3 separate regions of the Homo sapiens genome follow, and all the other regions are linked to region 3. The links come from fine-mapping of genetic effects on plasma protein levels. A gene starts in region 3. Each other region holds a variant in brackets. All regions are shown on one strand. Distances are between the middles of the regions. Region 1 overlaps GMPR (guanosine monophosphate reductase). Region 2 has its middle 25 kb from the start of MIR4639. Region 3 holds the start of GMPR (guanosine monophosphate reductase).

The links. PIP is the chance, under the fine-mapping model, that this variant and not a neighbour inherited with it causes the effect. Protein levels are from antibody-based Olink assays in UK Biobank. Linkage for the fine-mapping came from a reference panel and not from the study's own genotypes, which makes the PIPs less certain.
Region 1: its variant is fine-mapped to the plasma level of the GMPR protein (UK Biobank, PIP above 0.99). The variant lies in the coding sequence of GMPR. If it changes the protein, the assay may bind it differently, which can mimic a change of level.
Region 2: its variant is fine-mapped to the plasma level of the GMPR protein (UK Biobank, PIP above 0.99).

The regions. Positions count from the first base shown.
Region 1 is chr6:16,281,625-16,289,624 of GRCh38, reverse strand. It overlaps GMPR (guanosine monophosphate reductase), which reads right to left. Exons shown (of 9, transcript NM_006877.4): 7 at 3,790-3,832. Among named protein-coding and RNA genes, the nearest start is that of GMPR, 47 kb to the right of the region's middle. RefSeq lists an enhancer at 3,453-3,582. The variant G/T (reference allele first, on the strand shown) is at 3,795.
Region 2 is chr6:16,162,822-16,171,093 of GRCh38, reverse strand. It overlaps a transcript of MYLIP not described here. Among named protein-coding and RNA genes, the nearest start is that of MIR4639, 25 kb to the right of the region's middle. The variant G/A (reference allele first, on the strand shown) is at 3,808.
Region 3 is chr6:16,234,431-16,242,681 of GRCh38, reverse strand. GMPR (guanosine monophosphate reductase) reads right to left here and starts at 4,095. Exons shown (of 9, transcript NM_006877.4): 1 at 3,902-4,095. The coding sequence starts at 3,988. RefSeq lists silencers at 3,993-4,092, 4,213-4,312.

The DNA of each region.
Region 1 (8,000 bases), 47 kb before region 3:
GCACCATGCTGCTGCACATTAGATTTCCAGAGTACATATTCTGCCAGACTAATCACCGAATGACAGCACATTTCCAGGACAGGCACAGGAGACAGAGGTACTGAAGCTGCCTGTCTTTGTGGGCTATGCTGGAACAGGCCCAGGGCTGGTTCTATGTTGATCCAAAGTGCACAGCACATGATAGACGCTGAATGATTAGCTGTCAAAAAAGTAAAAACGTGGGAAAAAAAGTTATCATTCCCCATTTTGTTCATGGATCACTGTGCAGTGGGATTCTTCATTGCCTATTAACTAAGGAACTGCTACTGTGTTCGGAACTGGTGGGTTCTTGGTCTCACTGACTTCAAGAATGAAGCCATAGACTCTCACTGTGAGTGTAACAGCTCTATAAGGTGGCGCGGCTGAGGCTTTTTCCTTCTGGTGGGGTTGGGGTCTGCGCTAGCTCAAAAATGAAGCTATAGACCTTCCCGGCAAATAGCACAGCTCATAAAAGCAGTGTGGGCCTAAAGACCGAGCAGCAACAGAATCTATTGCAAAGAGCGAAACAACAAATCACCCTCCCAAAGAAAAGGAGCCAGAAGGGTTTGCCACTGCTGGCTCCGGCAGCCTGCTTTTATTCTCTTATCTGGCCCCACCCATATCCTGCTGATTGGTAGAGTGAGTGGTCTGTTTTGTCAGGGCGCTGATTGGTGTGTTTACAATCCCTGAGCTAGACACAAAGGTTCTCCACGTCCCCACCAGATTAGCTAGATACAGAGTGTGGATTGGTGCATTCACAAAACCTGAGCTAGACACAGGATGCTGGTTGGTGTGTTTACAAACCTTGAGCTAGATACAGAGTGCCCATTGGTGTATTTACAATCCCTGAGTTAGACATAAAGGTTCTCCACGTCCCCACCAGACTGAGGAGCCCAGCTGGCTTCATCCAGTGGATCCGCACTGGGGCTGCAGATGGAGCTGCCCACCAGTCCCACGCCCTGCGCCTGCACTCCTCAGCCCTTGCATGGTTGACGGGACTGGGGGCCTTGGAGCAGGGGGCGGCGCTCATTAGGGAGGCTCCCGCCGCACAGGAGCCCGTGGAGGGGGCGGGGAAGCTCAGCCATGGCGGGCGGCAGGTCCCGAGCCCTGCCCCGCAGGGAGGCAGCTAAGGCCCAGCCAGAAATCCAGCGCAGCGCCAGTGGGCTGGCACTGCTGGAGGACCCAGCACACCCTCCGCAGCTGCTGGCCCGGGTGCTAAGCCTCTCATTGCCTGAGGCCGGCAGGGCCAGCCGGCCGCTCCGAGTGCAGGGCCTGCCAAGCCCACACCCACCCGGAACTCCAGCTGGCCCGCAAGCGCCTCGCGCATCCTCGGTTGCCACTCGCGCCTCTCCCTCCACACCTCCCTTCAAGCTGAGGGAGCCGGCTCCGGCCTTGGCCAGCTCAGAAAGGGGCTCCCAGAGTGCAGAGACGGGCTGAAGGGCTCCTCAAGTGCTGCCAAAGTGGGAGCCCAGGCAGAGGAGGCGTGGACAGCAAGCGAGGGCTGTGAGGGCTGTCACCTCTCACTACAGCCTCCCCTGAGTAAGCCCTACTGAGGGTTTACCTTTAGAACAGAACAAGACAGTAGCAGGGCGCAGATGTATTAAGTAATAGGATGAAGGAGGAGGGGAGCCTGGCAAATCCTAATCAGGAGGAGGAAACATAGGAACCCCTGAAAGTGGCCCTGATGCCTTCAATTTGGTCATTTAAACATTGGCAGAGCACTCTGAGGTTTTCATTGGCGTTACAGTTCAGCATGACAGAAAGGCGAGCTTTTCTAGCACTCAGGGAAGCAAAGCACAACGCAACCTTCCTAAGTGGCAGCAACCTCTTAAGACCCTCCCCTTTCAGGGTTCCTAACACGAATGCTGACTCCCTGGTCCTCCTGCCATGATTTTAAGGAGGCAGAGGATAACTGGTGTCCAGCCAGGATTCTTGACAATTCAGGAGCACAGCACCTCTGCGGCAGCTGCAAAGGAGCAGATGTCAACAGCAGGAACGCAGAGCACAGACCCACTAAAGAATGCTTTGAGGGGGTTCCCAACCATTTTCATTTCGGGACACCCTTGCATCCTTCCCTGACAAGGTCCCTCTCGCTCCACTGAGTCTCGGCACAGGTACGGCCGCACTGACTGAGAGACAGTGGAGGAGGGAATGGCACCCAAAGGAGACTGAGCTGAGTGTGGTCCAAAGGCCAGGAACTGTGATCTACAAGGCACTTCTCAACGACCAGTCACTTTAAAGTGTGTTTGGCTCTCCCTCTGTACAGAGAGCATGTGTGAGGCAACACAAAAGAGTCCAAGATGGACCACCACCTGTATTAAGTAGATTCAGCTCAAAAACCAATCATAAAAATGCCCTTGGCCAATGATCCTTACAATAAAGGGTAAGTGACAGCACTAGTTAGCAGAGGCTCTGTATTCTCCCTGTTCTGCCCCTGATTGTAGGGCTGTGACCTTGTCATTCCCTCCTACAGCCTCAGTCCCCTCAACTATAAAATAGGAAGCTGGAATCAGTGGAGGGTCTGTAGATTCCTCTCCACAGATAGGATCTATGATTAGGAGGAGGTTAAATACCATTTTTCATGACATCTTTGGGTTGCTATGAAACCTTGTTGCTAAGAACACTGCCCTGTGTTTTCCTTTGTCACTATCAGGGTTGTTGTCTGACCATTTATTTTTTAATTTTTATTTTTTATATTTTTTTGAGACAGGGTCACTCTGTCACCCAGGCTGGAGTGCAGTGGCGTGATCTTGGCTCACTGCAACTTCTGGCTCCCGGGTTCAAGCGATTCTCCCACCTTGGCCTCCTGAGTAGCTGGGATTACAGGCGTGCACCACCACACCCCGGTATTTTTTTTTGTATTTTTAGTAGAGATGGGGTATTGTCCAGGCTGGTCTCAAACTGCTGGTTTCAAGTGATCTGCCCACCTCGGCCTCCCAAAGTGCTGGGATTACAGGTGTGAGCCACCGCACCCAGCCTGAAAATTAAAAACAAAAACCAAAAAACAAAAAAACAGAATTCCTATGACATAAAGTTTCCTGCCACCATTTTTTTTTTTTCTGGCATCAGCAAAGGGCGGAGGCATGGGAGCTTCGTTTCTGCCTCCCGCCGGCACCCACAACGCCCATTTCACATTCTGGAGCCCACAGCCACGCGGCCAGCTCTGACTTCCAAATGCCATTTGCAGTTCTATGGCCAACACATGGCTCGGCAGCCGTACTTTACTGCTTGTGGTGTTGAGAGGCTGGAGCGTCTAGTGCTTTCCAGAGAAAAGCTCAGGACCTGCTGCCCTCCCACCACCGCTCCCCATCCCCAATCCCACGGGCTCACAGCAGGCACTGCTGCCCCCTAGCGGGAGGCAGGCTCCAGCCTCCAGGGAGAAACCGCTGCGGGATTCCTCCTGTCCCTTCCACGGGACTTCTCCAAGCTGGGTCCAAAAAACCCCCTCTGTAGTTGTTACACATCACACCTGGCACCATCCCCTTGGACAGGTCCCTTGAGCTTTCTCTTCCCTGGGATGAAAAGGCCGTGACTTCACCCACTCCTGGCTTGCAGGACGTCACCCCTAGATATCTCCTGGGGCATCTGTGACCTGCTCTGCCACGGTCCAGGATTTGGGCCAATTGGGGCTGAAACCCAGGGAGAGGAACCTCCAGGAGACCCAGAACTTCCCCACCAGGTCCCCCTCCTCATTCAGGTTGCCAGCTGGAGAGGTGTAGGGAGCTCCCTCCTTCCTTCCTTCCCTCCCTCTGCACCAGGGCCCGGCCTTACCAAAG[G/T]CTTTGGCGACATCCCCTGGACACGTACAGCCTCCATCCTTCACAGAGGAAAAAGCAAGGACAGGACATCATCAGCGGGAGCTCAGCCAGGCTGTCCCCTCCCCCCAGATGACCTAGTGACTGGGGGTTCAGACCCACCACAGCCCCCAGCAAGCCCACGGGCCCAAGTTCCCCTACCACGGCTGTTGTTGTCTGATCGAGTGTACTCCCCTCAATATTGCACCTTTCACTCCCCAGGCCCATCCAGGCTTCCTCTGTGGGTCAGAAGCTGGCACCACCCACTGCCCACCTGCCTGCCTGGGCTCAGACACTTCTGTTGCAGAGCAGGAGGCAGCAGGGGCTGTGAGCGGCAGAGGGGCTCAGCCCTCATCCCATGCCAGCCCCCTACATAACACACCCAGCCATTCCACTGTCCACACTCATTCTCACTCAGGAGTCACCTTTCCCTCTCTGCCTGGTGTGAGGTGAGATTTATTTAGTACAAGGGTTGAATTCTTGTAAGAGCCAAGAAAAGGACATTGAGTTAATCCTTTTATCTTTCCAGGTACCTCCATGTTTCCTATTCCTCATGTATGGTACAAAGTTACCTTAAAATCAAACATCTGTTTTTCCACCCACACTGCCCATGCAGACCACACTTGGGCTGGTTTAATGTGTAGCAGGGCCAGTCTGTTATCTTGGGCTGCCCAGCAAGGTTCAGCTGTTGGGGGTAATGTTTAAACTCCAGCTACACAGTACAAGTCTTCTAGGATGCAGAGCTAGCTGAATTTTCTTTTCTTTTCTGTTTTTTTTTTTTTGTTTTTTTTTTTTTTTGAGACAGTCTCACTCTTGTCGCCCAGGCTGGAGTGTAATGGCGTGATCTCGGCTCACTGCAACCTCTGCCTCCTGGGTTCAAGCAATTCTCCTGCCTCAGCCTCCTGAGTAGCTGGATTACAAGTGCCCACCACCAAGCCCAGCTAATTTTTGTACTTTTAGTAGAGACGGGATTTCGCCACGTTGGCCTGGCTGGTCTTGAGCTCCTGACCTCAGGTGATCCGCCCACCTCGGCCTCCCAAAGTGCTGGGATTACAGGCGTGCACCACCGCGCCCAGCCACTAGCTGCATTTTCTTACAAACACAAGACACCAAATGCCCAGGCTGCTACCTGCTATTCCTAATGTAGCCTGGGCGCAATTCAAGGGGCAAAAGGACAGCAACAGTACGCTGGAGCAGCAGCCAGACACACGGGGACAGTCACGAAAGCCATGGTGCAAGGGGAGACAGCAACAGTGTCAGGGCTCACGTGACAGTGACACAGCCCAAAGCTAAGTGTGGGTCTAGGAGAAACAGCAGGACCTCAGAGGGAAGCACCTGTCCGCAGAAGGTGGGACCCACTTTGGGAAGGAATAGAGAAAAGACAGGGTGCCCAGGCTACCCCGTGTTACAACCTGCAGGAAAGTGCACACACCTCTGGAGTTGGAGAGCAGGGAAATGGGATGACCCACCTTGTGAAGAACATCTCAAACTGAGAACATAGGGTCTCTGTGACTCAGTTCCCTTTCTCTATCTACCAGTGAGGCCTGTCACTCCAGGAGCTAGAACTCCAATACTATTTCACTACTTCTTTGCAGCTCTGATCAAAAGGTTAAGTGTGAAGGCTGGACCTTTTCTTTACAAACATTTACTGACCACAGTTATTTCCTCAATCAAATGTGTTATTCATACATGGCTTCTCTGACCCCCAGAGGGCCACAGAGCACTGAGGAATATTATTTCAGAGGTGGTCTTGCCGTATGTTATCTGGCCCAAACCCACTGTGTGAAGACAGGGACAGGGCTTGTGGCTCTATACCCCTTGTTAATGCTTCAAAATCCTGGCATATTTATTTATTTTACCTTTCAAAGGTACAACCTCAAAATGCCCTTCGCTTGCCCTGCCAATTAATTTTAAAGTGCTTTATCTCTTTATCAAAACCAGCTCTACACAGTGTTTCACACTTCTGGCCTCAAACACATTAAATAAACTCATGCTCCCATTAAAATAAGTCCTACACATGTATGACTTTTAAAAAAATCACTCTTTTGTTCACTCATTTGTGTCTCCTGTGGTGTCCTGAAAATTTCTTATTACTGTGGTCTGTGATGAGGCCTGAATCAGGAGCCCTGTGCCACTGGGACCCCAAGAAAATCAGCCTTTCTCTTCCCAGGATGGGCCAAGAGATCCACAGTTAATACAACTGTATGGCGTATTGCAAAGAGGAAATCATATTTATGGCGTCATCCGCTCACAGGGTGCTTTTGTATGTGCACTTGTGAAATGGTCAGCGTAGACCAAACAACTGTATATGGTTAATGGTTGTACATTTAACCAAGAGCAATCCAACTTCACATGATGCCTTAGGACAGACATGGCAGTCTACTTCCTGCTACTGTTTATATTTCCAAAAGTGTTCAAAGTGTCCTTTCATGTTCTCGGGAAGCAGTGTAGCTCCAGCAATCAAGACATACATGCATCTTCACACATAAACATTCATAGCTGCTGAAAGGTTGTTAAAAACAACAACATTTGGGCTTGTAATTTGTTTGTTCTGTGCAAGTATTCAAAGCAGTAATGTACAAGGAGTCCTTTTTTTGTTTTTCCAAAAGAGTTAACATTATATTTAAGTACAAATGGCATCACAGGACATGAAGGATAACTTGTGAACTGTCAGCCTGCCTCTTTTGCTTAAAAATACTTGCTCAGGCTACAGGCACAGTGGCTCACACCTGTAATCCCAGCACTTTGGGAGGCTGAGGCAGGCAGATCACCTAGGGTCAGGAGTTCAAGACCAGCCTGGCGAACATGGTGAAACCCTGTCTCTACTAAAACTACAGAAATTAGTTGGGTGTGGTGGCGTATGCCTATAATCCCAGCTACTCGGGAGGCTGAGGCAGGACTATCACTTAAACCTGGGAGACAGAGGTTGCAGTGAGCCGAGATCATGCCACTGCACTCCAGCATGGGTGACAAAGCAAGACTCTGTCTCAAAAAAAAAAAAGAAAAAAAAAATACTTGCTCACATTATGTTGAATACTGACAATGAAAAAACAAAAAGGAAAAAAGAAAAATACTTGCTTATTCCTAAAACAAAGGAAGGATGGTATGGCAAACATGGAGTAGGCAGAGAAAGGAGTTCAAATCAGTCACCTACTAAGAACCAGCAACTCTTTTGAACTTAAAAGTCATTTTTCCATTCAAACTCATGAACCTGAAGGAGATATTGCGTAGACGGCGGGGACGGTGGAAAGAGGCTCAGAAAGGTTAAGCAACTCTCCTAAGGTCACACAGCTATAAAAATGGAAAAACAAGTTTAGAACCAGTGGTTATCTTAAGATGATAGCATTACTGCTAATACTTATTTTCCTTTTTATGTTTATTTGCATTTCTAACTTTTCCTAGGTTAAACACATTTTGCTGGGAAAATTTTCCAGACTCAAAAAAAAAGATTAATTATTTGAATGAATTTGTTTAGGTATTTCTAAATAATGGTGTGATAACAAAAAATTAACTGGTCCCACCTTAATCTTCACCTATGCAGGAAGTATCCTGAATTTTTCCTCCCTCTGCCTCTCTGAAGCCCATGTGGGCCACAACAGAAACACGACTGAAGCCCAGCCTCTTGGGTATCAGTACATGCTCAACAGACACCATGTTGTGGCTTCCTTTGAACTTCAATGGCACCAGTGTGCTAATTCAGCAAATAAAGGGTAAAATGGGACAGCTGGAAGGAAATTGGACCAAGTGGCAGGATCCAAAACACCTGGTGGGTTTCTAGCAGGTTCAGGGCTACTGGCAAGTGACAGAAACGTGCCCGTGCCCTGTTAGACAAAGGGAGTGTGGGGGCAATGGCTGCTCTGAACCTCAAGACACTCAGCTGCTTACAAGGACTGAGCTGAGGGCAAAGGTCCAAATTCTACTAAGTCCATTCATTTGCTTTTCCAGCTAAATGGAACTCCTAACCCCATCTAGGAGACCTCTCAGCATTGACGTAAAAGGAAACTCGGAGGCCGGGCACGGTGGCTTACGCCTGTAATCCCAGCACTTTGGGAGGCTGAGGCGGGCGGATCATGAGGTCAGGAGTTCGAGACCAGCCTGGCCAGCATGGTGAAACCCTGCCTCTACTAAAAATACAAAAAAAAAATGGGCTGAGCGTGGTGGCGCGTGCCTGTAATCCCAGCTACTCGGGAG
Region 2 (8,272 bases), 72 kb after region 3:
ACATCAGATGTTTCTTCCTTTGAATCTCTTCAAAGCCAAATGGCTTTGGGCAGCACAAAATACTCTGGGCACGTGTTGCTCTGTCTCCCTGCACATTTATTTGCCTTCTAGCACCTTTTGCTGTTTACTCTGCTAAAGAATAGAAACATATTTAAAAACTGGGAATGTACTTGGCAATAGCATCTGAAAGGTGTATATGAAACTCAAGTCTAATTATAGTTGTTATACAGGGAGATTTAAAAAATTAAACATCAGTAGTTGATTATTTTAGTCACACACATGTATGGTACATAAATTCTCTTTCCCTATCAAATAGGAGATCTAGATTTCTTTTTCTGAGATAATTTGTAGCCTTTTCCATTTATAATTCTAGTTGCTACAAGAATCAGCATCATCTTTAACAAGAGGGATTCATTATTAGAAAATTTAATAACATAATCCTTCATATTAAGACAAAGAGAAAAAGGTCATATAATCATCTTCACAGAGGTAGATAACGCACCTGATAAACTTAACACTTAAAAATATACATTGATGACTATTTTGTTTTTTAAATACGTATGATTATATATAATTACATATATCATTATATATGGTTATATATGGTACAACATTTACTGAAATATATAAATAATGTATACTTTATATTCATATGTGATTTTTAATATGTTATACATGTGATTATATGTCTGTGTGTGTGTATACTTTAGCTCAAAAGCTGGCATCTTATTTAACGTGATTACACTGGAGACTTTCCATTAAAGTGAGGAACAAGACAAAGGATAGCCATGATCTCCACTGCTATTTAATACTGGGCTGGAGGTCCTAGTCTATGCAATTAGATAAGAACAAGCAATTAGAAGAATAAAAATTGGAAAGAAAGAGGTATAACTGTCTCTGTCAAATCAATGTCAATATGTAGATGAGGGGTGTCCAATCTTTTGGTTTCCCTGGGTCACACTGGAAGAAGAAGAATTATCTTGGGCCATACATAAAATACACTAACACTAACAATAGCTGATGAGCTAAGAGGAAAAAAATTGCAAAAAAACTCATACTGTTTTAAAAAAGTTTACAAATTTGTGTTGGGCTGCATTCAAAGCTGTCCAGGGCCCTGTGTGGCCTGCAGGCTGCAGGTTGGCTTTAAGCTTGGTGTAGACCTTATCTGAATCCTGATTCAAACACAAAAATTGAAAAAAAATTATTTTTACAATGAAAAAATTTGAACATTGACTGGATTTTGGCTAATAGCAGACACTAGTGAATTATCGCTACATTTAAGTATGATAATGGCATTGCAGTTATTTTTTTTAACGTTCTTCTCTTTAAGAGATACATGACGAAATGTGTATAGATAAATAACATATGGGAGAATGTAGAATCTATATTATCTATAACTACCCCACAGATAAAACAAGATTGTCCATGAGTGGACAATTGTTGAAGCTGGGTGATGGGTCCATGGAGCTCATTATACTATTCTTCCTACTCTTGTATGTGTCTGAAATTTTCCACAATAAAAATTTAGAACAAGGTTAAAACAAATAAGGCAAAATAGTATCATGCATGTAATCTCAATGGTGGGTATATAGTCATTGTATTATTTTCTATTCTTTTTTATCTTTGAATTGCTCATAATTAAAATCAAAACAATTTACAAATATACAAATTATTTTGATTTTAATTATGAGCAATTCAAAGATAAAAAAGAATAGAAAGAATAGCTGTGCAGATACTTAAATTGAGGGAGGATTTTTTTTTAACTCTATAAAATCTTATTTCTTAAAAAAAAAAAAAAGAAAGAAAAAAAAAGGCCTAAAGTAAGTAAGTGTATTAGTTCGGCTTCACACTACTATAAGTGCCCCAGACTGGATAATTTATAAAGAAAAGAGGTTTAATTGACTCACAGCTGCAAATGGCTGGGGAGACATCAGGAAACTTATACAATAATGGCAGAAGGGAAAGCAAAACCATCCTTCTTCACAAGGTGGCAGGAGAGAGAAGCACAGAGCAAAGGGGGAACAGACCCTTATAAAACCATCAGATATTGTTGAGAACTCACTATCACAAGAGAACAGCATGGGAGAACCGCCCCCATGATCCAATCACCTCCCAAGAGTTCCCTCTTCCAGCACCTGGGGATTACAGTTCGGATTACAACTCAAGATGAGATTTGGGTGGGAACACACAGCCAGACCATATCAATAAGCAAAATGTTCAAGTCTGTTTACTCCTGGTAGTGGGCACATAGAGTCTGTTTATTATTCTGTCTTTTGTTTGCTTAAATTGTTCCTTAATTTAAATAGCATCCTTTATTTTTTAAAAATGCCTGTGTGTAATGCTGAGGTCATATCTGCCTTCTATGGAAGCTGCTTGCAGCGGGGCACAGAGGTCACCAAGAAATTTTGCACCTGGAGATTTTGTATCAGCAAGAAGTGGGTAGAAAAGTAGAGGGTCGCTGGAAGGAAGGTAACACTCCCAAATCCCAGTCCACTACACACTTTCCCACACTCTGAGGGGCTCTCCAGAAAAACTAAAAAATCAGGAGGAAGATACCTCCAGGGTTAGATCTTTCTTCTACTTCCTCAGTGGTGCCTAAGGCATCACCCTCCACCCATGGCCCCATTGTGGTCAGCACCTCCCGACCTTGATCTAGAAACTGCACGCTCAGAGTTACCCTCTCTCTGGGGTCAGGCAATTCCAGCACTGCACTTTCAGCGTTGGCTGAAAGTCTTGAACAGTTTACTTAGACCTTCTCCATTTGTTTGGCTAACCCCAGAGAACACCTCAAAGTAAGATCTGGTAAACTGTGCAGTGTTTAAACATTTTTTCTTCAAGTGGTAAGACCAAGTACACATCCCATTTCGACAAGAAGAATTTGAGATAAGCCTCTGTGATTGCTGAGGGCTATCGAGGAGAGTAATTTACCCTGAGGGCTGCCAAAACAAGTCCAGTCACTAGGGAAAGATTCTGCATGGAGACTAGAGTGTGGACCCCATAGCCATGAAAACTATGGCCTTTTTTTCTGAATTTGAGGCAGTTTTAGAAAAGCAAAAACCAAAAACTTCAGCAGATACTTTTCTCCCAAGTGGCTTTGTTCCCTCGCCTCTGGAGAGCCATAAACCATGAAATTTATTTGGGAAGGGGGTGCAGCATTAACAAAGACATAGTGTCAGTTGCTTTCTATTAATTACTCTTCAATATTAGTATACTTTTGAAATATGCTTCAGAAAATGATGACTAAATGGCTGAATTTCTAAAAGGAAAAAAATTGTTTTAGGATCAGATCAAGCACATTTATTAAGCATTCACTCATTCATTCATTCATCTACTAACTATTTATAAAGCACCTACTATGTTCCTGATATTGTTGCCAGGTTCTCAAGTTACCCAGAAGACACAGTGGCCACTTACAAGGAGAGGCATTGGGTAAGGATGTGCTAAGTTTTGTCTCCATCAAATTAAATTGAAAATCAGTTATTATCTAAACATTTACATAATTACAGGCAGTCATTATCCAGGTTGTTTTCCAAAGGCCAAATTTGACTCAGTGTGTCTTTGATTACTGAGACAAGGCACCAGTCGCATGAAACATCTCTTCAGAACAAAGCATTCCAAAGAAATTATTACACAGGAGGTTTAGCTCAAGAAAAAAGGAACAGAGAAATAGCTTGGGGTACAAAGCTCTTTATCTTGCTTTCTAAAGTGCAGTGGTTTAACGTTTAAAAGGTTACTTTCTGGAACATTTTTCCCTTGAAAGTTTCTTTCACACATTTGCAGACAGAAATTACAATAGAGCCATGAACA[G/A]CTTCCACTCTCTGGAGGGGATTTTCTTGCTTTTACTTATGTATTAGATAAAAATAGCATTTTACTTGTCTTCAAGCCTAAAGACAGGATTACATTTAAATCAGGTTCTTTCATTTTAAAATGTGAATTGTTAACTAGGGAGTAATGAGACCCGACCCTTAACCAGGCAGCCCTGGATTTATCCTTATGTCCATAAAGTTCCCAAGTTAAAATGAGCTTCAAAGGTCTGTAAATGTGAGGAATGTTACCTCCTTCCCCCTGGCACTTGTGAACATTTTAGTGGTTGTTTTCTCTGGTCAGATCCTACTGCCTCCAGAGATTTTTTTTTTTAACTTATTTCTCTGCTGTGTTTCCTGAACTTTTTCTAATAAGCAAGATCAGAACTCCTTTAGATACCTCCTTGATTTCGTTTATTGACAATCTAAACCCTACTGAGATATGTCCCTCAGTTATTCTGGACCTCATCAACAAGTCTGAATCATGGTCTCCAATTCACAGAAATGCTAAGATTGCAGCAACTTCTCTATAATAAATTTATAAAATGAGGTAATCTGATAGACAAACTCATTTAAGAAGAGTATTGACCACTTAGATTTCTGATATTTAAAAAAACACGTTAACTGCTGGAAAAGTCAAATAAAAAAAGCTAGAGGATTTCTTATATGTGTTCCATAAAATCACAGTGTTAATATTTCAGAGCTACAGAGAGCCTTGTTGATTATCTAATTTCCTTATTTTGTTATAATGGAAAGTGAGGCTGTCATATTGTGAAATATATACAGTACTTGGTTATCCTCCAGTTTCCTGGCATACAACTCCTAAAATCCTTGGACTCTTCAAAGTAATAAGTGGCTTTGTATGTGCTATTGAATTGACTAATAGGGGCGGTTCCTAGGTAGCTTCAGGATGGGGTTGGTCACCAGAAAGACCAAGGCAAGATTAGAGGGTTGGGACTTTTAGCCCCACCCCGAAACCTTGAGAAGGGGAGAAGGGCTGAAGATTATGTTGGTCACCAATGACCAATGACTTAATCAATCATGCCTCCCTAATGAAGCTTAAAAATCAAAAAGGACTATGTTCTGGAATCTTCCAGGTAGCTGAACCTCCAGACAGTGGAGGTTCCTGGAAGGTGGTGTGCCCAGGGAGGGCACGAAAGCTCTGTGTCCCTTCCTGCATGCCTTGCCCTACACATCTCTTCATCTGTATCCTTTGTAACATCCCTTATAATAAACAGGAAAACTTAAGTGTTTCCCTGAGGTCTGTGAGCTGCCCTAACAAATTAAGGGAACCCGGCGGGGTTGTGGGAACCCTAGTGTATAGCCAGTTGGTCAGAAGCACAGATAATACAACCTGGGGCTTGCGATCTGCATGGGAAGGTGTGTGTGTTGGGGGTAGGGCAGTCTTATGGGTCTGAGCCCTCAATCTCTGGGATCTGACACTCTCTCCAGGTAGATAGCATCAGAATCGAATTGAATTGGAGGACACCCAGCTGGTGTCCACTGAGGAATTGTTTGCTTGCTTGGTGGATGGGAAAAACACCTCCTCAATTGGGTCACAGGAGTCTTCTGTGTTGATTGTTTAAGTGAGAGAATAGAGGGAACGCTTTGGGTGTGTTTTTCCCCCTCATTTGGCAGGGGGGAGTTAAGGTTCCATATAGAATTAAGGTTGCTAATCAATGGACCCTAAAAAAAGGAGAGGATCCTGGGGCGGTGGAGGGCAGTTTTGTGGGACTGAGCCCTCAACCTGTGGGATCTGATGCTGTCTCCAGGTAGATAGCATCAGAATTGAATTGAATAAGAGGACACCCAGCTAGTGTCCTCTGCTGGATTGATTGATTGGCTGCTGGTTGGGAGAAATCTCCACAAACTTCTTCGTGCCCAGAGGTCACAGAAGTCTTCTGTGTTGATTGTTGTTGAGTAAGAGCATAGGAAAAGCACTTTGTTTTTTATTCTTTCATTCACAGAAGTCCACACAGGGGCCCAGAGAAGCAAAAGACAGGACTTTCCTAATATCGCATCAATTGACTTCAGTCTTTCTATTCCTTGCTGCAAGATACTTCTACTAGAGAACAGAAAAAGTCAATATCTAAAGAATGTCCAAAAATAAAAAGTCTTCTTTTAAAATGAGGTCTCGGTACCTCTTCAGGGAATCTGTCCCTTCACAGTTCACAGTTCACAGTCAGGCCTTATTGATCTAAAAAGAACTAAGTTCTTCCTGAGTTTATGGATTTATTATATTCCCATGTTGCCTGCACTAGAATGTAAACTCCAAGAGGGCAGGGCTTTGTCTGTTCTGTTCACTGGTGCACCCTGAGTACCCACCACAGTGCTTGGCCCCCAGATGATGGTCAGAATGAATAAATGAATGAATGAATGAAATGAAATCTGGCTGTCACCATAGGCAAACACTCAGGACTAACAATAGAAGGAACAAAAATAAGATCTGAAAAGGCCGTATGTTTATTACGATAAAAAATAATGTATTAAATGGGCATTTTGAGAAACTTCATTTTGTTTCTTTATGTCCTGGTAATGAGGCCTAAGAAGATCCCAGATATTACCATCTCCCTGGCGTCCCGAAACCTTTACTTATTAGGGTCAAACATCTGCCATTTAACTCATTCATTAATCCATACCTACTAGATATTTTATAATGATATTTTCAATATTAGAATCAAAGGTGCTTAGCCGGGTGTGGTGGGCATGCCTCTAGTCCCAGCTATTTGGTCAGCTGAGGTGGGAGGATCACTTGAGTTCATGAGCGAGGCTGCAGTGAGCTATGATTATGCCACTGTACTCCAGCCTGGGTGACCCCGTCTCTAAAAAAAGAAAAAGAAGAAAAAGGATGAAATGTGCCAGAGGTGTCAGTCAGTAGAAAGTGAAGCAATGGACTAGTATGAGATAATCCACATCATAAATAGTAAATTTTGACTGTCGTGTGTAGGCTGGGTCTAGCCACTGGGATCTTGAGATGCTACTAGTATTGATGTTCTTTTCCATGTGCTCCAAAACAGTGAAAATTCATACATGTTGCCTGTTCTCCCTCCAGTAGTGACTGTAAGACTTTAATTTGATTTAATTCAAAACAATTTAAGTTATTGAGCATGTACTCAACAAATTATTCTGCTAGGCATTTTAGGAAGAGATATATGACAAGGGCTGAGTTCTGATCAATGTCGGCTGTTTGATGCATTGCCTGTCTGGCACATTGCCTGCAAGATGCCTGTAGCAGGAAATTTTTTATCTTACAGTCATGGGGCTGGAAGGATAGGGGAGGAGCTTTTTCTGTTGGATTAAAAAGGAGATACTCAAAGTTGAGTTAATAGAGGACAAAGATGTCAAACCTGAAAAAGAGTTTAATGGGAATGAAGAGACTTCCAATGACCTGAATGGTAAGCAGTTTCAATCCAGAGAAAAATATATTTGAAAAAAACAACAAAGTTATGAATACAGTGGTTTTTAACAAGGTACAAGGGACTTCATGATAGTTTTGTTAACAATGCTTCTTAAACATAACTTTCAATGGACAATGTTGATTTTATGTAAGATCAAGACAAGAGGAAAAGGAAGATTATAGAATTTCCAGATGAAGATAAATGTCAAAGGAAGATGAGGCTTCAGACAGATAAAGACAACAAACAAGTCATGGGAAGGCCCCAGTGAGAGCTGACTCAGTGAGGGAGACTACACACATGAGGAAGTGATAATTGAGTGTTTCGCATCCAGCAGGAAAGAACCTAGAAAAAGAGGAGAGAAAAGGAAATGTATTATAAAATCTCAACAAGTTGTCTAACCCAAGAACCCAAGACAAATTTTGACAGCTTTGTTGGCTTCAGTTTCTAGCATTATTTTTATTGGTTGAATTAGGTACAAGTAGCTCTATGGGTAGCAAAAGCCCACAGGTGATAGAGACAATTTCTGCAAAACAAACACATTGTATCTTGTGGATGGTATAACAGACACCTGCCATGTGTCTGTTGTTGGATACAACCCTACAGGAGGCATGATTCATTTCCAGCAGCACGAGACCAGTGTATTAATCACAATGCTTTTGGCTGCAGGTAATAGGAAAATCAAATAAAGCAGCTTCAACAATAAGGAAAAAGTGTATTACCTCCCATGGCAGTAGGACAGGAGATGGTAAGGGCTGGGTGGGGTGGCCTGAGGCTCTGGGATCAGTGAGTTCAGCTGCTTAATGTTGTCAGGATGACCTAGATCTTTCCACCTATCAGGTCTGCCATCCTCATCATATGCGCTAGCACCCCTCATCTTCACAAGCTTGCATTAGCAGCTCCATGCATTACATCCTCACACAATGCCAAAAGCCGGAAAAGCAGAGGGCGTGTCATCTTTCTGAATCCCTGCCCTCTAGCTCTTTTTAAAAATTAGAATACCTGGTTACTGGGGAAAAATCATAATGAAAACTGCAATTGCTTATTTCACAACTTACAAAATAATGATTCAAT
Region 3 (8,251 bases):
GGGCAACAAGAGCGAAACTCCTTCTCAAAAAAAATAAATAAAAAATAAAATAAAAAGGAGAAATTTGGACACAGATGCACACATAGGGAGAACCTCATGTGGAGATGAAGGCAGAGATTGGGGACAACTGTCAGCAAACCAGCAGAAGCTGGGAGAAGGGCAAGAAACAGAATCTCCCTCCCAGCCCTCAGAAGGAATCAACCCTGCCAACATCTTGGACTGGGACTGCTACCTTCCAGAACTGTAAGATAATAAATTCTTGTTACTTAAGCCACCAAGTATGTGGTCCTCAGTTACAGCAGCCCCAGGAAACCAGCATACAGGCAAAGGTTAAAAAAAAAAAAAAAAAGTAATTAGTGACAGAGCTTGGACTAAAACACAGGTATCCTTCCTCCCAGCCACTCTGCCATGTTCTCATCCCCCTCAGGCCAACCAGTAGCAGACGGTGAAAGCTAGACCAGAACTCTTCTCACGGGACTGCTGGGGAAAAAACTGCTATGAAGTTTTAAGCAGACTGAACATCTGTTGTGTCTTCTCTGTCCTTAAACAAAATGAGTAATTTGCTGCGATTCTCTTCAATGCCTGATAATTTATTAATAAGTTTTTTAGGGGTTTATTTTTTGTTTTTGTTTTAATTCTTATCAGCTGGGTGCAGTGGCTCACACCTGTAATCCCGGCACTTTGGGAGTCTGAGGCAGGCAGATCACCTGAAGTCAAGAGTTCAAGACCAGCCTGGCCAACACGGTGAAACCCCATCTCTACTAAAAATACAAAAATTAGCAGAGCGTGGTAGGTGCCTGTAATCCCAGCTTCTCGGGAGCCTGAGGAAGGAGAATCGCTTGAACCCAGGAGGCGGAGGTTGCAGCGAGCCAAGATCACACCACTGCACTCCAGCCTGGGTGACAGAGTGAGACTCCGTCTCTAAATAAATAAATAAATAAGTACATTCTTACTAGCTTAAGGACTAGAGTAGAATGTTAGAGCCAGAAATGGGTACTAAGGAAGAAAACACTCAGGGAGAATGCAGGCTCCCCAGCGTAACAGATGAAAACAAAGGTCTTGTCTCAATCCACAAACTCATCACTTCTCAGAAAAAGATTATCCAAATGTCCCCACATGACCCTGTGGCGCTTTATTCTTCCATGCCAGGGGCTGGACATTTGAGAGATGAATGCCTCCCTGGAGAATCCAGGCGAAGGCCACCTGGGCCACTGCTACCTGTATTCTTTGCCTCTCAGAGGTGACCTCAGATTCATCTCATTCATGTTCATTTATGGAAGGCTGGTGGAAATGTCCTTGCAGGAGTCCTGAAGCTTCTGAGGGGGAGATCACTCTTACTGTCCGTTTCCTGCTATAGCCTGATGATCCATTGCTGGGCCTGGCTCTTAGCAAAACTGTCACGAGGATAAGCCCATCATCAGCTGTCAAAACCCTCCTCCCTCAGCCAGACTCTACTCCCAGGGTGTACGTTCTCTTTCCTGGCTCTGTACAAATCTGCTGTTAGGCTCAATGTCGGTCATCTACCCTTCAGTTTCCAATTTGCCTCCAGATATTACTTCTGCCAGGATGCACATATTTTAAGCTTCTGATTGTGCAAGGAAAAGTTTTTATCTGCCTGTGAAAAATTTCAGGCATCAACAAGCAAACTGAGAAAACATTGAGAGGGGATTAGGGAGGCCTAACTAGATCCCTCAACGCCACCGAGGCAAGTAAAGTCAGATCATGGGGGTGGCCAGCCAGGCAGCAGCCTCACGCATCAGGGAGCTAAACCATCACGGCAACCGATTAGAAAGGCAATGCTGGTTAACCTGAGTCTCCAGGCCCGTGGCTGGCAAACTCCCACGAACATAAAAATACAAAAGAGACTCCTCAAGGGCACTGAGTTCTCACTGCAATGTGTACATGAAGATTGCAAAGATGCTATCCCAAACTGGAACATTAGTTACAATCTGCCCAAATTATGAAGCCAAGTGTTGCATGACATTGTCGCATGATGTGATAGTATTCCCCGAGAAGGAGTAATTCATTCTATTACATAAATTTCATTTTAGCTTTAGAGACAGGGTTGTCCAGGCTGAAGTGCAGTGGCACCATCATAGCTCACTGTAACCTCCAGCTCCTGGGCTCAAGCCATCCTCCCGCCTCAGCCTTCCAAGTAGCTGGGACTACAGGTGAGCACCACTGCCCTAATTTTTTAAATTTTTGTTGTAATCTCCAGCTCGTGGGCTCAAGCCATCCTCCCGCCTCAGCCTTCCAAATAGCTGGGACTAGAGGTGTGCACAACTGCCCTGGCTGATTTTTTAAATTTTTGTAGAGCTGAGGTCTTGCTTTGTTGCCTAGGCTGGCCTCGAACTCCTGGCCTCAAGCAATCCTTCCACCTCAGGTTCCTAAAGTGCTGGGATTACAGGTGTGAGCTACTGTGCCTGGCCCTATTACATTAATGTTCAATATTTTACCTTCTCAACATGTTTTCTGGTTCAGAAAATAGGTATATCTTTGTTTTGAACATCCAATTTTCTGAAAAATGAGTTTCTCTCTTCTAAATACATTTTGAATATTTAAAGAATATTGAGGCCACCAAATTATTAGCACATCCAGAATCCCCCTATTTCATCTTGGTCTTGCCTTAGGAATTGGCTACAGCTCATGCTTCCAGAGGCCCAGGCCTGCCCTCCAAACTGTTTTTGTTCCAAGAGAGGCCCCCTCTTTAGCACCTGAAAGGTCATGAGGGACAGGCACAGGGTCACCCAATCTGGGGCGATAAGTTTTAATCATTCCTCCCCTACGTCCTCCAGTCCTGCCGGGCTCCAAACCAGCCAATGCTGCTGCTTACAGAAGGCCACTTGGTTTAGTCATTGGCTAACGCGGAGGCTTCCCCAATCCAAGCAAGCCCTCGGCTGGCAGCCCCAGGCACTGCAGTTAGGCCTGGCACCGGAGTGGGCAGCGGACTTCTTTGCTGAGGGGATTTATTTATGGTCTTGTTTGTGGAGCTGAGTGGACGGAGCTGTGCAGGTTGGCCCAGCCTCCTCGTGTTTACTCCTTCAGCCCCAGCCTTCAACCGTGTCCGGTTTCCTCACCTTCCTCTCCAGCTCTCAGCAAAGCCAGTCACCAGCGCACACCACCCCGGGGCACTCTGCCTTTCAGGCAACTAGTTTATCCTTCAGGGACTGGCCTCCCTTCCCCCAGCCTCAGGCTATTTCCAGTCCGGTCTCCACCTGTTCCTTAGGATTTGAGGACATCCAGGCAGAACCAGGGAAATGCCCGAGGCTTCCAATTCGCCCCCACCTCTCTCACCCCAAAGCTTTCGAAACTCTTCTCCAGGGCTAGGCTGGGACCGCGGGCTGTCCAGTACCGCTGAGTCCCCAAGCCCCACTGCCAGCAAGGCCGCCAAACTCAGAAAGGAAACCCTGAACTTGTGCCCTGGGTTCTGGTTTTTCAGACGCGTTCACGAAGTTCCACCGCTGGACCCGAAGCGAAAGCAGCAGCAATTATCAGCACTAGGAGACGCAGCCAAAAATCACCGGGATCTGCAGTTGTTTTTCTCGTCCTCTCTCCCCTAGCTCCAGTTTCCTTTTCTTGCTATAAGCGCCCTCGTACCCCTATTCCTTCTAAACCAACTGGCCACTGGATCTCGCTCATCTGTGGTCGAGTTTCACTGTGAACTTCCCCTAGGCCACCCAACGGGACCGACGTGTAGAGAATTTCATGGGCCCCCGTATCACCGCCCTTAAAGACACCTCACGTCCTGGCAGGTGCTGGGGCGCGGGAACGGGGGCGCAGCGCCCCAGTCTCAAACACCAAAGCAGGCAGGGTAACCCGGTGCCACCCCCTTCCACCCACTTGCCCCGCGCCACCCGGAAAAAAAAATCCCACCCCACTGCGACTTCCGAACGTCCCCCACCTCGGCTCGGCTCTTGAGGCTGCTCCGCTTAGGTCGGAGCAGGACATCCTTGAAGTCGAGCTTGAGGTCCGCATCTATGCGGGGCATGGTGCAGCGGCTCCTGGCTGCGGCGGCGGCGACGGCGGGGCGGGGGCGCCTGCGCGGGGCGGCGCGGGGAGCGCCGGGGCTGCTGTGCCGCGGCCGGGAGCTGGCGTGGGCCGGGTGCGCACGCCGCGGTCTTAAACACGCCCCGCCGACCCGCGGTCACGCTTGGCCCGCCCCGGGCACCGCCTCCGCCTCAGGCAGGGGTTGAGAGGCAGACTGGTTAGGGACAGATTGGCGGCGAAGCCCTTCCTCCTCGCGCCGCCGCCCCCGTCCTTCCCCCTCAGGTGTACAGCCCGTGGCAGTGACCGAATGGGGACGGGGGAGGGAAATGCGCACCGTTCTGTTTGTCCCCAGGGTCCCCGATGGAGAGGGGACTTAGCGTGTGGCTGCCTTATCCAAGGGAAAAGTCGCTCCCTGAGAGCTTTTACTTTTTTTTTTTTTTTTTTGAGACAGTCTCACTGTCGCTCAGGCTGGAGTGAGTGGCGCTATCGCCGCTCATCGCAGCCTCGACTTCCTGGGCTCAAACGATTCTCATGCCTCAGCCTCCTCGAGTACAGGCGCACGCCGCCACACCCAGCTTATTTTAAAAATTATTTCCTAGAGGCGGGGTTTCACCATATTGCCCAAGCTGGTCTCGAGCCCCTGACCTCAAGTGATCCGCCTGCCTCGGCCTCCCAAAGTGCTGGGATTACAGGCGTGAGCCACCGTGCCCGGCGGATTCTCCTTTTTTAAAATTCAAGCCCGGTGTGCTCACCCAGTGTTGAGGAGCACGTCTCTCACTTGCCAAAGAACCAGAAACCCCAGGGAGGTTGTATAGAATTAAGGAAAAGAACGTGGGCAGTTAACTGTTTAGCTGTACTGGGATTGTGGAGGCCATGATTCCCTTTGGACTTGTTGTTAAGAGACAAGGTCTCACTGTGTTGCCCAGGCTGGTCTTGAACTACTGGGTTCAAGCAATCCTCCCGCCTCAGCTTCCCAGTGTTGGGACTACTGGCGTGAGCCACTGCGCCCAGCCTGGATTTCAGGATTTTTGTTTAAGAAAAACAGTGAGGTCTGTAGTCGACGCAGATCCTGAGATTTGAGGAGCCTGAGTCCCCTCTGAGGGTTACCAGTGATGTGAGTTCGAGGGGTTACCAGTGATGTGAGTTCATTGATTCACTTATTGACCTTACCGACCTTTTATTATACATTTGAAATGTGCTGCCGGGCTTCATGCATCATCTCATTCACTCTCAGAACAACCCAATGAAGAAAGAGCCATTTCACAGATAAGGAAAAACGAGGCTTCTATAAATGAAATAACTTGCCTAAGGCCGCAGAAAAATTCAATATAAATTTCTCAGTCCTTAAAACTTGCTACAACTATTCACTGAAGCTGCTTTTGTCCTGGAACATCTCTGCCTGAGTTTGAAACCTGGTTCCACCACTGTCTAGCTAGGTGACCTTAGGGGAGTCAATTTCTCTAAGTCTCAGTTTTCTCATAAAAGGGGTGGGGGCAGGAGGGGGGGTTAACCCTATCTCCTCCCTGGTTTTTGTGAGAATTAAAGTGTGTGTGTTTATGTAAGCACAATGTCTGTCCCATAGTAGTTGCTCAATGCATGGTAGTTACAGATTTGTAGTCACATGTTACATTATGTGCATTGTGTTTGTATTTTCAAACTAGAATGCTAACTGCACAAAGGCAAGAATCATCTTTCATTCTCTTCCATTTTTCTGCAGCCTCGAACTGAGCTAGCAACTGTTCTCCTTGAGCTAGCATGTGATAAGGCTGACCATAAAAGATACATCACAATATTCAATTTAACACAAATGTCTGAAGATGATAAAGGTCTCAGCCCATCCCACATGGTTTCATTAGCTATACCCCAAAGGAAGTTCATGAAGTTTCAGGGAAGGAAATGAAACTTATCAGAGAGAATGAAAGTAGCCACAATTAGTCCAGCCCATGCAATGTTTATAACCCTTGACGAATTCTTGGGAGCTGGCCAGATGTGCTGCTTATTTGTGAAGTACGGAAAGGAAACCTAATTCTGATCTTTTAAAGATTAAATAGAGGTAAAATATAATTACTAGATGGTATGATTATTTTTAAATTATTATCCTTAAAGGGAAGAGAAACTGACCTTGTTAAGCATCTGCCAGCGTGGATGAGGGCTTTATTCATTGTTTCATACATGGTCTTAAAGGAGAAGCTTCTGTAGGTTGTCCTTGCTCTTTCCCTCTGGTTCTCTTTCTTTCTGGCTAGCCCTCCTTTTATTAGAATAGACAGAGAAGTTCATTTTACACATTCCATTCCCTCTCCCTCTGGAACATTCCTCTATAACTGCCCTCTTCTCTGACACAAAATCATACTCCTGTTAGAGTCAGCCTGAGTCCCTGATTCTTCTAAAACCGGCTTTGCAAAAATTATGACAGTGAGAAAAATCTGACATAGGAAAATGACAACAGTGAAAGAAATCTGACCTAACTGACTCCATCTTGCTTTTAACCGCCAAGGTGTCCTTGTTCATTCCTGGGTGTAGGTTGAACTAACTATGGGAGGAATTGAGTTTATAGTTTAACTTTGAAACAAAGATGAGAACAGCACGTTCCCAAAACAAACCCCCTCCTGGCTTGGGGACCAGCGCACCTTTGTAAAACTAACAAAGTAGCTACAGATTACAAATCATGGCTCAGGCATCATGTAGCCAGAGGCCATAAGATTCCCAACCTCCCCAGTTGCTCCTATGAATAACATCACTATTGAAAACCTAAGATTGGTGTTAGAGATATGTTTCAGTCAGTCCCCCCATTCTGATGGACCAGCTGGCACCACCCTGACCAGTAAACTGGCTCAGCTAGTTCTGTGATCCCACTCGGAAACGGAAGACAGCAAGGAAAACCCACTTCAACAGCCTATTATTTCATCCCTTACCTGACCAATCAGCATTCCCCACTCCCTAGTTCCTGCCCACCAAATTATCCTTAAAAAAGCCTGGTCTCTGAATTTTTGGGGAGACTGATTTGAGCAATAAAACTCCAGTCTCCTGTTAGCTGGCTCTGCATTTATTAAACTCTTTCTGTATTGCAGTAATGCTGTCTCAGTAAATTGGCTCTATCTATGCAGCAGGCAAGAAGAACACATAGGGCAGTTCCACTCCCACACCAACTGAGACTCCTTTCAACATCCTCTGCTTCTCATTACTCTAATACAACAATAATAGTTTCCCATCAGTACAATGACTTTATGTTAAAGTTTTCACTGTCTAGACAAAGCCATAAGTGATATCCAGAGTTCAATTTATTAACATTTTATTATGGGAGGGGAGGGTTATCCCCAAAATTACATGGGAAGATAACCTCCAAAATTATGTGGGATAAATTCCACTTGGTCACAGTGCATAATCCTTTTTTGTATTGATGGATCCTATTTGCTAATATTTTGTTAAGGATTTGTGCATCTGAGCTTATAAGGGACATTACTCTGTAGTTTTCTTTTCTTTTGATGCCTTTATCAGGGTAATAGTGGCCTCATAGAATTAGTTGGGAAATGTTCCACGCTCTGTTTTCTGAAAGAGCTTGTGTAGGCTTGGGATTAGTTCTTTAAATATTTAATAGAATTAACCAGTGAACTAAAATTATGTGAAGTGATAAAATGGTTTATTTTTAGTAAATAAGTATCTCTCAAAACCCAGAAATAAAGTTAAGTATTAAAGGCTTTTTGATAATTCAGAATTATAGTATTTAATATTAAGGGATAAGAGCAAATCTGGAGGCATCACACTACCTGATTTCAAACTATACTATAAGGCCATAGTCACCAAAACAGCATGGTGCTGGTACTGGTATAAAAATGGGCACATAGACCAGCGGAAAACAATAAAGAACCCAGAAATAAACCTACATACCTACAGCCAATTGATCTTCAACAAAGCAAACTAAAACATGAAGTGGAAAAAGGACACCCTTTTCAACAAATGGTGCTGGGATAATTGGCTAGTCACATGTAGGAGAATGAAACTGGATCCTCATCTCTCACCTTATACAAAAATCAACTCAACATGGATTAAGGGGCCGGGTGAGGTGGCTCATGCCTGTAATCCCAACACTTAGGGAGGCTGAGGCAGGCAGATCATCTGAGGTCAGGAGTTTGAGACTAGCCTGGCCAACATGGTGCAACCCTGTCCCCACTAAAAATACAAAAATTAGCTGGGCATGGTGACACCGGTCTGTAGTCCCAGGTACTCGGGAAGCTGAGGTGGGAGAATTGCTTGAACCCGGGAGATG